Linked DNA regions of Homo sapiens. The protein of the gene in region 1 interacts with the protein of each later gene in a pairwise test. Each region holds a gene or a part of one and is shown on either strand. Other genes may lie near its edges.

Region 1 (3,500 bases):
TTTGCAGTGGCTGGTATGGGTTGTTCCTTTCCATGTTTAGTGCTTCCTTCAGGAGCTCTTTTAGGGCAGGCCTGGTGGTGACAGATTCTCTCAGCATTTGTTTGTCTGTAAAGTATTTTATTTCTCCTTCACTTATGAAGCTTAGTTTGGCTGGATATGAAATTCTGGGTTGAAAATTCTTTTCTTTAGGAATGTTGAATATTGGCCCCCACTCTCTTCTGGCTTGTAGAGTTTCTGCCCAGAGATCCCCTCTTAGTCTGATGGGCTTCCCTTTGTGGTTAACCCGACCTTTCTCTCTGGCTGCCCTTAACATTTTTTCCTTCATTTCAACTTTGGTGAATCTGACAATTATGTGTCTTGGAGTTGCTCTTCTCGAGGAGTATCTTTGTGGCGTTCTCTATATTTCCTGAATCTGAAAGTTGGCCTGCCTTGCTAGATTGGGGAAGTTCTCCTGGATAATATCCTGCAGAGTGTTTTCCAACTTGGTTCCATTCTCCCCATCACTTTCAGGTACACCAATCAGACGTAGATTTGGTCTTTTCACATAGTCGCATATTTCTTGGAGGCTTTGCTCATTTCTTTTTATTCTTTTTTCTCTAAACTTCCCTTCTCGCTTCATTTCATTCATTTCATCTTCCATCACTGATACCCTTTCTTCCAGTTCATCTCATCGGCTCCTGAGGGTTCTGCATTCTTCACGTAGTTCTCGAGCCTTGGCTTTCAGCTCCATCAGCTCCTTTAAGCACTTCTCTGTATTGGTTATTCTAGTTATACATTCGTCTAAATTTTTTTCAAAGTTTTCAACTTCTTTGCCTTTGGTTTAAGTTTCCTCCTGTAGCTCAGAGTAGTTTGATCATCTGAAACCTTCTTCTCTCAACTCGTCAAAGCCATTCTCCATCCAGCTTTGTTCCGTTGCTGGTGAGGAGCTGCGTTCCTTTGGAGGAGGAGAGGCACTCTGCTTTTTAGAGTTTCCAGTTTTTCTGCTTTGTTTTTTCCCCATCTTTGTGGTTTTATCTACTTTTGGTCTTTGATGGTGGTGATATACAGATGGGTTTTTGGTGTGGATGTCCTTTCTGTTTGTTAGTTTTCCTTCTAACAGACAGGACCCTCAGCTGCAGGTCTGTTGTAGTTTGCTAGAGGTCCACTCCAGACCCTGTTTGCCTGGGTCCCAGCAGCGGTGGCTGCAGAACAGCGGCTTTTCGTGAACCGCAAGTCCTGTTCTCTGATCGTTCCTCTGGAAGTTTTGTCTCAGAGGAGTACCCGGCGGTGTGAGGTGTCAGTTTGCCCCTACTGGGTGGTGCCTCCTAGTTAGGCTGCTTGGGGGTCAGGGGTCAGGGACCCACTTGAGGAGGCAGTCTGCCCGTTCTCAGATCTCCAGCTGCATGCTGGGAGAACCACTGCTCTCTTCAAAGCTGTCAGACAGGGACATTTAAGTCTGCAGAGGTTACTGCTGTCTTTTTGTCTGTGCCTGCCCCCAGAGGTGGAGCCTACAGAGGCAGGCAGGCCTCCTTGAGCTGTGGTGGGCTCCATCCAGTTCGAGCTTCCCAGCTGCTTTGTTTACCTAAGCAAGCCTGGGCAATGGCAGGTGCCCCTCCCCCAGCCTCGCTGCCGCCTTGCAGTTTGATCTCAGACTGCTGTGCTTGCAGTCAGCGAGACTCCGTGGGCGTAGGACCCTCCGAGCCAGGTGCGGGATATAATCTCCTGGTCCGCCATTTTTTAAGCCTGTCGGTAAAGCGCAGTATTAGGGTGGGAGTGACCCAATTTTCCAGGTGCCGTCTGTCACTCCTTTCTTTGACTAGGAAAGGGAACTCCCTGACCCCTTGCGCTTCCCGAGTGAGGCAATGCCTCACCCTGCTTTGGCTCGCGCACGGTGCGCTGCACCCACTCTCCTGCACCCACTGTCTGGCACTCCCTAGTGAGATGAACCTGGTACCTCAGATGGAAATGCAAAATCACCCGTCTTCTGCGTCGCTCACTCTGGGAGCTGTAGACTGGAGCTGTTCCTATTTGGCCATCTTGCCTCCACCTCCCATTGTACATTTTTAAATAACTGAAAATGTATAATTAGATTGTAACACAAAGGATAAATGCTTGAGGTAGGTGCGCCATTCTCCATGATGTGATTATTATGCATTGCATGCCTGTATCAAAACATCTCATATTCCACATAAGTGTATATACCAACTATAATACTCAAAAAAAATTAAAAATGTTCAAAAAGTCTAGCACATACGATTACGTATACTACACAATACTTGATAAAGATAATAAATAACTATATACTTGTTTATTATTTACTTTTTACCATTATTATAGACTGTACTTCTTACACTTGTTTTTTTAAGTTACTATACAACAGCCTCAGGCAGGCCCTTCAGGAGACATTCCAGAAAAAGGTACTGTTATCAGAGAAGATGACATCTCTATGCATATCATTACCCTTGAAGACTTTTCAGTGAGACAAAACGTGGAGGTGAAAACAGTGATATTGATTATCCTGACCCTGTGTAGACCTAGGCTAACTTTCTGTTTCTTAGTTTTTAACAAAAAAGTTTAAAAAGCTTTTTCCTATTTTAATTTTTTAACTTATAAGGAAATGTAAAAAGGAAATACTTTTGTCCAGCTGTACAATGTATGTGTTTTAAGCTAAGTGTTATTACAAGAGTCAAAAAGCTTTAAAAATTTTTTAAGTTTATAAAGTCAGAAAATCACTGTAAGGTAAGGTTGATTTATTTCTGAAGGGAGAACACTTTTTTACAGTAAATTTAGTGTAGCCTAGGTATACTGTTAACGTCTTAGGCCTTCATGTTCATTTACCACTCACTAACTCACCCAAAACAATTTTCAGTCCTGCAAACTCCATTCATCATAAGTCCCCTGTATGGGTGTGTACCATTTTTTACCTTTTATATCTTATTTTTACTGTAGCTTTTCTATATTTAGATACGTAAATATTTACCATTGTTACAGTTTCCTACAGCATTCAGTACAGTAACATGATACATAGGTTTGTAGCATAGGAGCACAATAGGCTATTCCACATAACCTAAGTGTGTAGTAGTCTATACCATCTAGGTTTGTGAAAGTACACTGTATGCTCACACAGTGATGAAATTGCTGAATGATACATTTCTCAGAATGTATCTCCATTGTTAAGTATGTATTATTGTACTTACTGTTCAGCATCTCAAATCCAAAATCTGAAATGCTCCAATGAAGAAGCATTTGGAGCTTTGATTGAAATGTTGGCACTCCAAAAGCAAGGATTTGGGATTTTTTGATTTCAGATGTGCAACCTATTAATAATTATATTAAATGTAAGTATGTTGAATGTTGTAACATTCAGGGATTGGCAGAATGGGTTTACAAAAAAAAAAAAATTAGAATCCAGCTTTATGCTGTCTACAAGAGATAGACTTTAGATTCACAGACACAAATAGGTTAAAGTAACAGGATGGAAAAAGATATACCATGTAAGTAGTAGTCAAGAAAAATGGTAG
Region 2 (3,500 bases), on another chromosome or scaffold:
GGCACCGTGTATTTATCTGAGAAAGATCCTGTCAATACAAAGATTGCCCTAATTACAGTTTCAGATAAGGACACAGATGTGAATGGCAAAGTGATCTGTTTTATTGAAAGAGAGGTCCCATTTCATTTGAAGGCGGTATATGACAACCAATATTTGTTAGAGACCTCTTCTTTGTTGGACTATGAGGGCACCAAAGAATTCAGCTTTAAAATTGTTGCCTCTGATTCTGGGAAGCCCAGTTTAAATCAGACTGCCCTGGTAAGGGTTAAGCTTGAGGATGAAAATGACAACCCACCAATTTTCAACCAGCCTGTAATTGAGCTGTCAGTTTCTGAAAACAACCGACGTGGGTTATACTTAACAACTATTAGTGCCACAGATGAAGACAGTGGGAAAAATGCAGACATTGTTTATCAGCTTGGACCGAATGCCTCCTTCTTTGATCTGGACCGAAAAACAGGAGTTTTGACAGCCTCCAGAGTATTTGACAGAGAAGAACAAGAACGATTCATTTTTACAGTAACTGCCAGGGACAATGGGACCCCTCCCCTCCAAAGCCAAGCGGCTGTGATTGTTACTGTTCTGGATGAGAATGACAATAGCCCCAAGTTTACTCATAATCATTTTCAATTTTTTGTGTCTGAGAATCTGCCAAAGTATAGTACTGTGGGGGTAATCACAGTGACAGATGCAGATGCTGGAGAGAATAAAGCTGTGACTCTTTCCATTCTAAATGACAATGATAATTTTGTGTTGGATCCCTATTCTGGAGTCATAAAGTCAAATGTCTCATTTGATAGAGAGCAGCAGAGTTCCTACACTTTTGATGTCAAAGCCACTGATGGAGGACAACCACCTCGTTCCTCTACTGCAAAAGTAACTATCAACGTCATGGATGTCAATGACAACAGCCCAGTTGTCATTTCTCCACCGTCTAATACTTCCTTTAAGTTGGTGCCCCTCTCAGCCATTCCTGGCTCCGTGGTAGCAGAAGTTTTTGCAGTGGATGTTGACACTGGAATGAACGCTGAACTAAAGTATACTATAGTGAGTGGAAACAATAAAGGCTTATTCCGGATTGATCCAGTAACAGGTAACATTACTCTGGAAGAAAAACCAGCACCTACTGATGTGGGATTGCATCGTTTGGTGGTCAACATAAGTGACCTGGGGTACCCTAAGTCTTTGCACACGCTTGTGCTTGTATTCCTTTATGTTAACGACACTGCTGGAAATGCCTCCTATATCTATGACTTGATCCGCAGGACTATGGAGACCCCGTTGGACAGGAACATAGGGGATAGTAGCCAACCCTATCAAAATGAGGACTATCTAACCATCATGATTGCCATCATCGCCGGTGCCATGGTGGTCATTGTTGTGATCTTCGTCACCGTTCTGGTGCGCTGTCGCCATGCATCAAGGTTCAAAGCAGCTCAGAGGAGCAAGCAAGGTGCCGAATGGATGTCCCCAAACCAGGAGAACAAGCAAAACAAGAAAAAGAAAAGAAAGAAAAGGAAGTCTCCCAAAAGCTCTCTTTTGAACTTTGTTACTATCGAAGAGTCCAAACCCGATGATGCAGTTCATGAACCTATCAATGGGACAATAAGCCTGCCGGCTGAACTGGAGGAGCAAAGTATAGGAAGATTTGACTGGGGCCCGGCACCTCCAACAACATTCAAGCCTAACAGTCCTGACCTGGCCAAGCACTACAAATCTGCTTCTCCACAGCCTGCTTTTCATCTCAAACCAGACACTCCAGTTTCCGTGAAAAAGCACCACGTGATTCAGGAACTCCCTTTGGACAACACCTTTGTTGGGGGTTGTGACACCCTTTCTAAACGCTCTTCCACTAGTTCAGATCACTTCAGTGCCTCAGAGTGCAGTTCCCAAGGAGGCTTCAAGACAAAGGGCCCCTTACACACCAGACAGGTAAACGAGCACTTTTACTGGTCTATAAGTACTGCATACAAGTGCCCAGTCAACCAGTATTAACGTGCCAGTATGTCTATTGTTTTGGTCTAACTTTAGCTTAGTTAGAAAGAGGTAAAAAAAAACTTGACCCCTTTTCTATTCCTCTGGGGCTCAGTCAAGAATTTTTAGAACAGCTTTGAAATTTCTGAGTTCTGAGAATATTTTCTCCTTTCAGTTTCCTTCAAATGGCAAAAGATGAAAAGAGAAAATTATTCCAAAATGTCCCAAGATAATGTTTGCTGAAGAAGAAAAAACCTGTCCTGATATGCCAAATTCTGCTCCTGGGGGTTTCCAAATTGACTGCTTCAAGACTTTCACCTTACCTTTTGATCTAAAAAGTCACCTTCAAATCTCAAGTTTTCAATGACTTTTGAAGGTGTGACTGCAATTATGTTGCAGCTATGGTTGCTAAAGGGGTTAATTTTTTTTTTAGTCTCTAAACAGGATAGTAGAATATTAAATGTACATCAGCTGTGAAGCACATGATCGTTGATAGATTGCAACTAAGCCATATAGGAAGTCTTCTCTTTGATTTCAAATTATTTTATTGTAATATATTAAATTCGGTACTTAATAGAAAGATTTTTAGTGTCCGCAGTGGCCAAATACTCTTTCAAAAAAAAAAAAAAAAAGAATGCTTGCTGCCTAATATAACTGATTTAAAAAGAAAAGAATGAATCCATTGTAAATATTCTCTCATCTTAGTAATGCATAAGTGATCTGTCATAACTCATTTTAAACTGTGAAATATGCCATATGAAGAGGGATTAAGAGGCTGAGAAACTCATATTTCAACCAAATCCAGAATTAGTTTTTCTTAGGTCTAATAATTCCTTGTTAATAAAGATTTAAATGCAGCGCTGTCTAATTTATTTCACTGGTGCTTGTCTGTTGCCACAAAATTTGAATATCGATAATAGCCTGTAGATGGCACTAGGGTATCATGTCGCTTGTGCTGGCCAGGTGCCAATCCCGCAGTAGCAAGGAGAAGGGGGAGGGAAGGATCAAGCTGGTAGTACAGCCAAAGATACCTTTTATTTAATGATAGTTGCTCTGGAGCAACTAGCATTTAAGTTCATTCGCTTGCTCTTTTGTGATTAGCTCTCAGCACACCAACTTTCTAGGATTTCGTAATGCTAGTTCTGTCTTTGTCGATATGGAGTTCACCTATGGTGATGGCCCATCTGTACTTGTTTATAAATAAGGAACACATAGATTTTAGAAAATCAAGTAAAGCAAAATTAGTTTGCAGAACAGTATCAACAGTTATCATTGATTAGTCTTTGGAGAATCAAGAGTTTTTATTTTCTGAGGGTGGGGTGAAGTAGGATGTTTTATTGAAACAGTTTCCCCCTTACCAACTATCATTTATTGCTCTGGAAGGACTTAAGGCTTCATGGTAATAAAATATTTATAAGAGTAATTTTGACAATGAGTCATACAGATACTCCCAGAACATCAAGTATAATACATATTACCATACAACTAAAATCTCCATTCTTAAAGTAAAATATTAAACAGTAGAG
Region 3 (3,500 bases), on another chromosome or scaffold:
TTATGATAAGTACAGACTTTGCAGAGTATCTGGTATAATACAGGCACCTAATAATGTTATTACCAAGTGCCATTTGAATGAATGACTACTACTAATTGCTACAATTGTTACCACTATAATTGGCTAAGATAAAAAATAATCGAGAATAATAGTCTCAAGTATATTATAGTTAAGAGCAGGGAGAGGCATGAGCAATCTCTTGTTATTATTGCTATTAAAGAAGCCATTTGTTCTGTTCAGGGCTTTAAAAAAGTCCAATGGGAATAAGGCAGTGAGAGAGGAGATTCATGGAAATCTTTGCCTGCAAGGACAGAGAATACTCATGTGGTACTTTTTGGCTGGCAGTAGTGACCTCCTAGCTGGTGAAATAGAGAAGGCGGAGATGTTGAATATGGAGGGGAGGGTTATGGAAGGCACTCAATGATGTGCAGGCTAGGCTGATGCTTCCTCATTCGATGAATAAAGATAGCATTCTCAGCTAAATTCAGCTCCTTCAGTGTCCTCTCTGAGGCTTGGATAGGAGTTAAAAGCCCGACCTGCTGGATCTTCATCTGATCTCTTTCCTCAGACCCCCGGCAGTGGACAGAAACCCATGTTCGGGACTGGGTGATGTGGGCTGTGAATGAATTCAGCCTGAAAGGTGTAGACTTCCAGAAGTTCTGTATGAATGGAGCAGCCCTCTGCGCCCTGGGTAAAGACTGCTTTCTCGAGCTGGCCCCAGACTTTGTTGGGGACATCTTATGGGAACATCTAGAGATCCTGCAGAAAGGTAAATATGTGGAAACAGAGAGAGGTGGAGGTTATGTGGGGTTGCTGTGAGAGTAGGTAGGGGGCTCACCCAATGGTGGGACGTCAATGCCTTTATCTGTGGGTGTCCTACTGTAGGACGTATGTGGGAATGTGCCTAGTACACTGCTCAGCATACAGCAGGTACTCTTAGATGAGTGTAATTTCTTTTTCTTCTACATATTGGGGGTTCAGATATTAATCTTCAGCAAGATTGTACCACTGAAGCTTCTTGGATTGCAACATTCTAATCCAGGTCCTTATCTCAAACCCATGCCCTGGTTGAACAAGCAGTGCCCACAGCCAACCCAAGAATAGTTTTTGTTTTTGTTTTTGTTTTTGTTTTCTGCAATCTTAATACACACTGCCTTGATGCATGCCCCATAATACCTCATCACATCCCGGGAAAGCTTAGCGTCTGAGACCGTATTAATAAGACAGATTTCTCTGCCCACTAACTGAATTGGAATTGCAGTAGTGCATCATACCTTTTACATCTGGAGCAGGAACTGGGGTTATATCAGGACGCTATGTTGCAACCTTATAATGACATGGCCTCCCCTAACAGCCTCTTCCAACCTTTTTGGACCAAGTGACTCATGTACCACAGTCCTGGCTGAGTATAGAAACAGCAGCAGGCGGCAAACTTGGGTGTTTTTGTGCTTATTTTTTTGAATTTTTTCTTAAAATAAATTGCAGTTACCAGCAGTCAGCAGTGCCCTTCAGCTGACTGTAAGCCTAGAAGCCCATTGCCCTCTCTAACCCAGGCCCATCCTTTCCCTGTGGTCATCAGCTCTAACCCTTGGCACAGACGCTGGGGGAGGGGAGCAAAACTCAGGATTAGCACTTTTACCCCGCATTATACCTTCCTTTGGTTAAGAATATATTCCATTCTGCAGTGCTCAAGAGAGACCCAAACTAGATTTCTCTGTGCTCAAAAATGTTATCTTTATTCCTTCTTTTCACTTTCTGTTGAAAAATAAGACATAAAGGAATACAGGAAAGAACTAGGTGAGTCTTTCTGTGGCTGCTTTTACCGAGGATGGCAGGCAGTTGCAAAGCACCGGCATGTTCTCCATGCACAGACACCCACTCATAGGTGTTGACATGAGCGACCTGTTTATAGAGGGAAACGATACGGCAGGCTCCTAACAGATCTGATTTGACTGTTGACTTCTAAACACAATAGCAGATTCAATCAGACTGTGTAACCCAGTATATTCTACTAAGAGGCTGTTTTCCTCCATTTATCAAAATGGAGCTGCTAGGTGTTTTGGGCTATCTAAGCCCATCTCTGATTGTAGTTACAATTAATATCTCTATCATGTCTCCCTGTTTCCAAAGTGCTTTCAAATACATTTTCTCTTTGGATTATCAAAATAACTGTGAGATAGTAAGGACAAGTCCTATTATTGTCCTTGTCTGTAAAATGAAGCTCAGGGTAGGCGATTTCTTCAGTATCACTCATCTCCTTTTCTTCATTTTATTTCAACTTTCAGTATATTTTTATTTTATTTTATTTTATTTATTTTTTGAGACAGAGTCTTGCTCTGTCACCCAGGCTGGAGTGCAGTCGCGCGATGTCGGCTCACTGCAACCTTCGCCTCCTAGGTTCAAGCGATTCTCCTGCCTCACCCTCCTGAGTAGCTGGGACTACAGGCGCATGCCACCATGCCTAGCTAATTTTTGTATTTTTAGTAGAGTCAGGGCTTCACCGTGTTGGCCAGGATGGTCTTGATCCCTTGACCTCGTGATCTGCCCACCTTGGCCTCCCAAAACACTGGGATTACAGGCGTGAGCCACCGCGCCTGCCCTCAATATATTTTTATTTAACTTAAAATTTAACATCCCATCCTGTGCTTTTTGTATAATAATGTGGATTCACAGGGGCCTTCTGGCCGCTAAGACTGGTTTGGCCTCACTTAGGGTAAAGGAATAATGTAAGAAAATTTAAGAGAATTAGGATATAAGTCAGTATGTTTGAGAGCAAAAGTCATATCTTCCCACCCAATATTCTGTTGAGAGAGGCAGAAAGAATTCTCCCTCTTCAGGTTCAGTTACTTGAAGAGATGAGCATGATGTTTGTGCTGAGGCTACAGCTTTTGTTCTGTAATTAAAGCAACACAGCAGCAAAAGAACATAGCTGTTTGGGGTGGGGTGGAAGGTGAAAGGTACGGGGATGTTTCAATCTGATAAACTGCTAAAGCAAAGTTTAATCATTTTATCTCAACTGGGAACTGTTTTTCTGTGCAGGCATAAACTTGTTTTCCCATCAGACTTTGCTCCTAACAAGCTATCAAATACCTGAGGAAAAACCCAAACCCATACTCTATGTCAGATTCTTATGGTGAAATATAATCAGACTACTCCATACAAGAATCGGAGCCATGGCATTTGTTCCAGGGTAATTAGAGGATCCCAGGCTTACTGCAGGGTCGTTCAGAGCTTTCTGTCCGCAGGTGCACTTCGTCTCCCTTCCTCTCCTTTTCCTAGGGGAGTTGGCATCTGGGCAGGAGCTTGACTGGGTTGCTCTTCTCTCCCTTGACACAAGCGCAGTCGCATTTCACCAAATGGAGTCACCTTACCAGTGTCCTGCTTCTTGTCTGGGCCTGAACTTGAAACCTGAGGGCAATGGGAAAAATACAAAACAAAAACCAGACATCTGTTAGAGGAAATGGAGAACGTAAAATCTATGGCCTAAAGACTGCAATATA

Evidence for each region.
Region 2: the proteins of COP1 (region 1) and PCDH9 interact in a two-hybrid assay, tested with the Homo sapiens proteins (one large-scale study listed by BioGRID).
Region 3: the proteins of COP1 (region 1) and ETS1 interact in binary tests that used the Homo sapiens proteins (3 or more experiments, as listed by UniProt).

What each region holds. Positions count from the first base shown.
Region 1 is NC_000001.11:175,990,787-175,994,286, reverse strand, and holds part of COP1 (E3 ubiquitin-protein ligase COP1), read left to right. Parts: intron 1-3,500. UniProt on the Homo sapiens protein: E3 ubiquitin-protein ligase that mediates ubiquitination and subsequent proteasomal degradation of target proteins.
Region 2 is NC_000013.11:67,223,837-67,227,336, reverse strand, and holds part of PCDH9 (protocadherin-9 isoform 1 precursor), read left to right. Parts: coding exon 1-1,932; coding exon of another isoform or gene 1,933-1,995; exon of another isoform or gene 1,996-2,149; coding exon of another isoform or gene 2,150-2,173; exon of another isoform or gene 2,174-3,500.
Region 3 is NC_000011.10:128,486,559-128,490,058, reverse strand, and holds part of ETS1 (protein C-ets-1), read left to right. Parts: intron 1-568; coding exon 569-769; intron 770-3,500. UniProt on the Homo sapiens protein: Transcription factor. Directly controls the expression of cytokine and chemokine genes in a wide variety of different cellular contexts. May control the differentiation, survival and proliferation of lymphoid cells.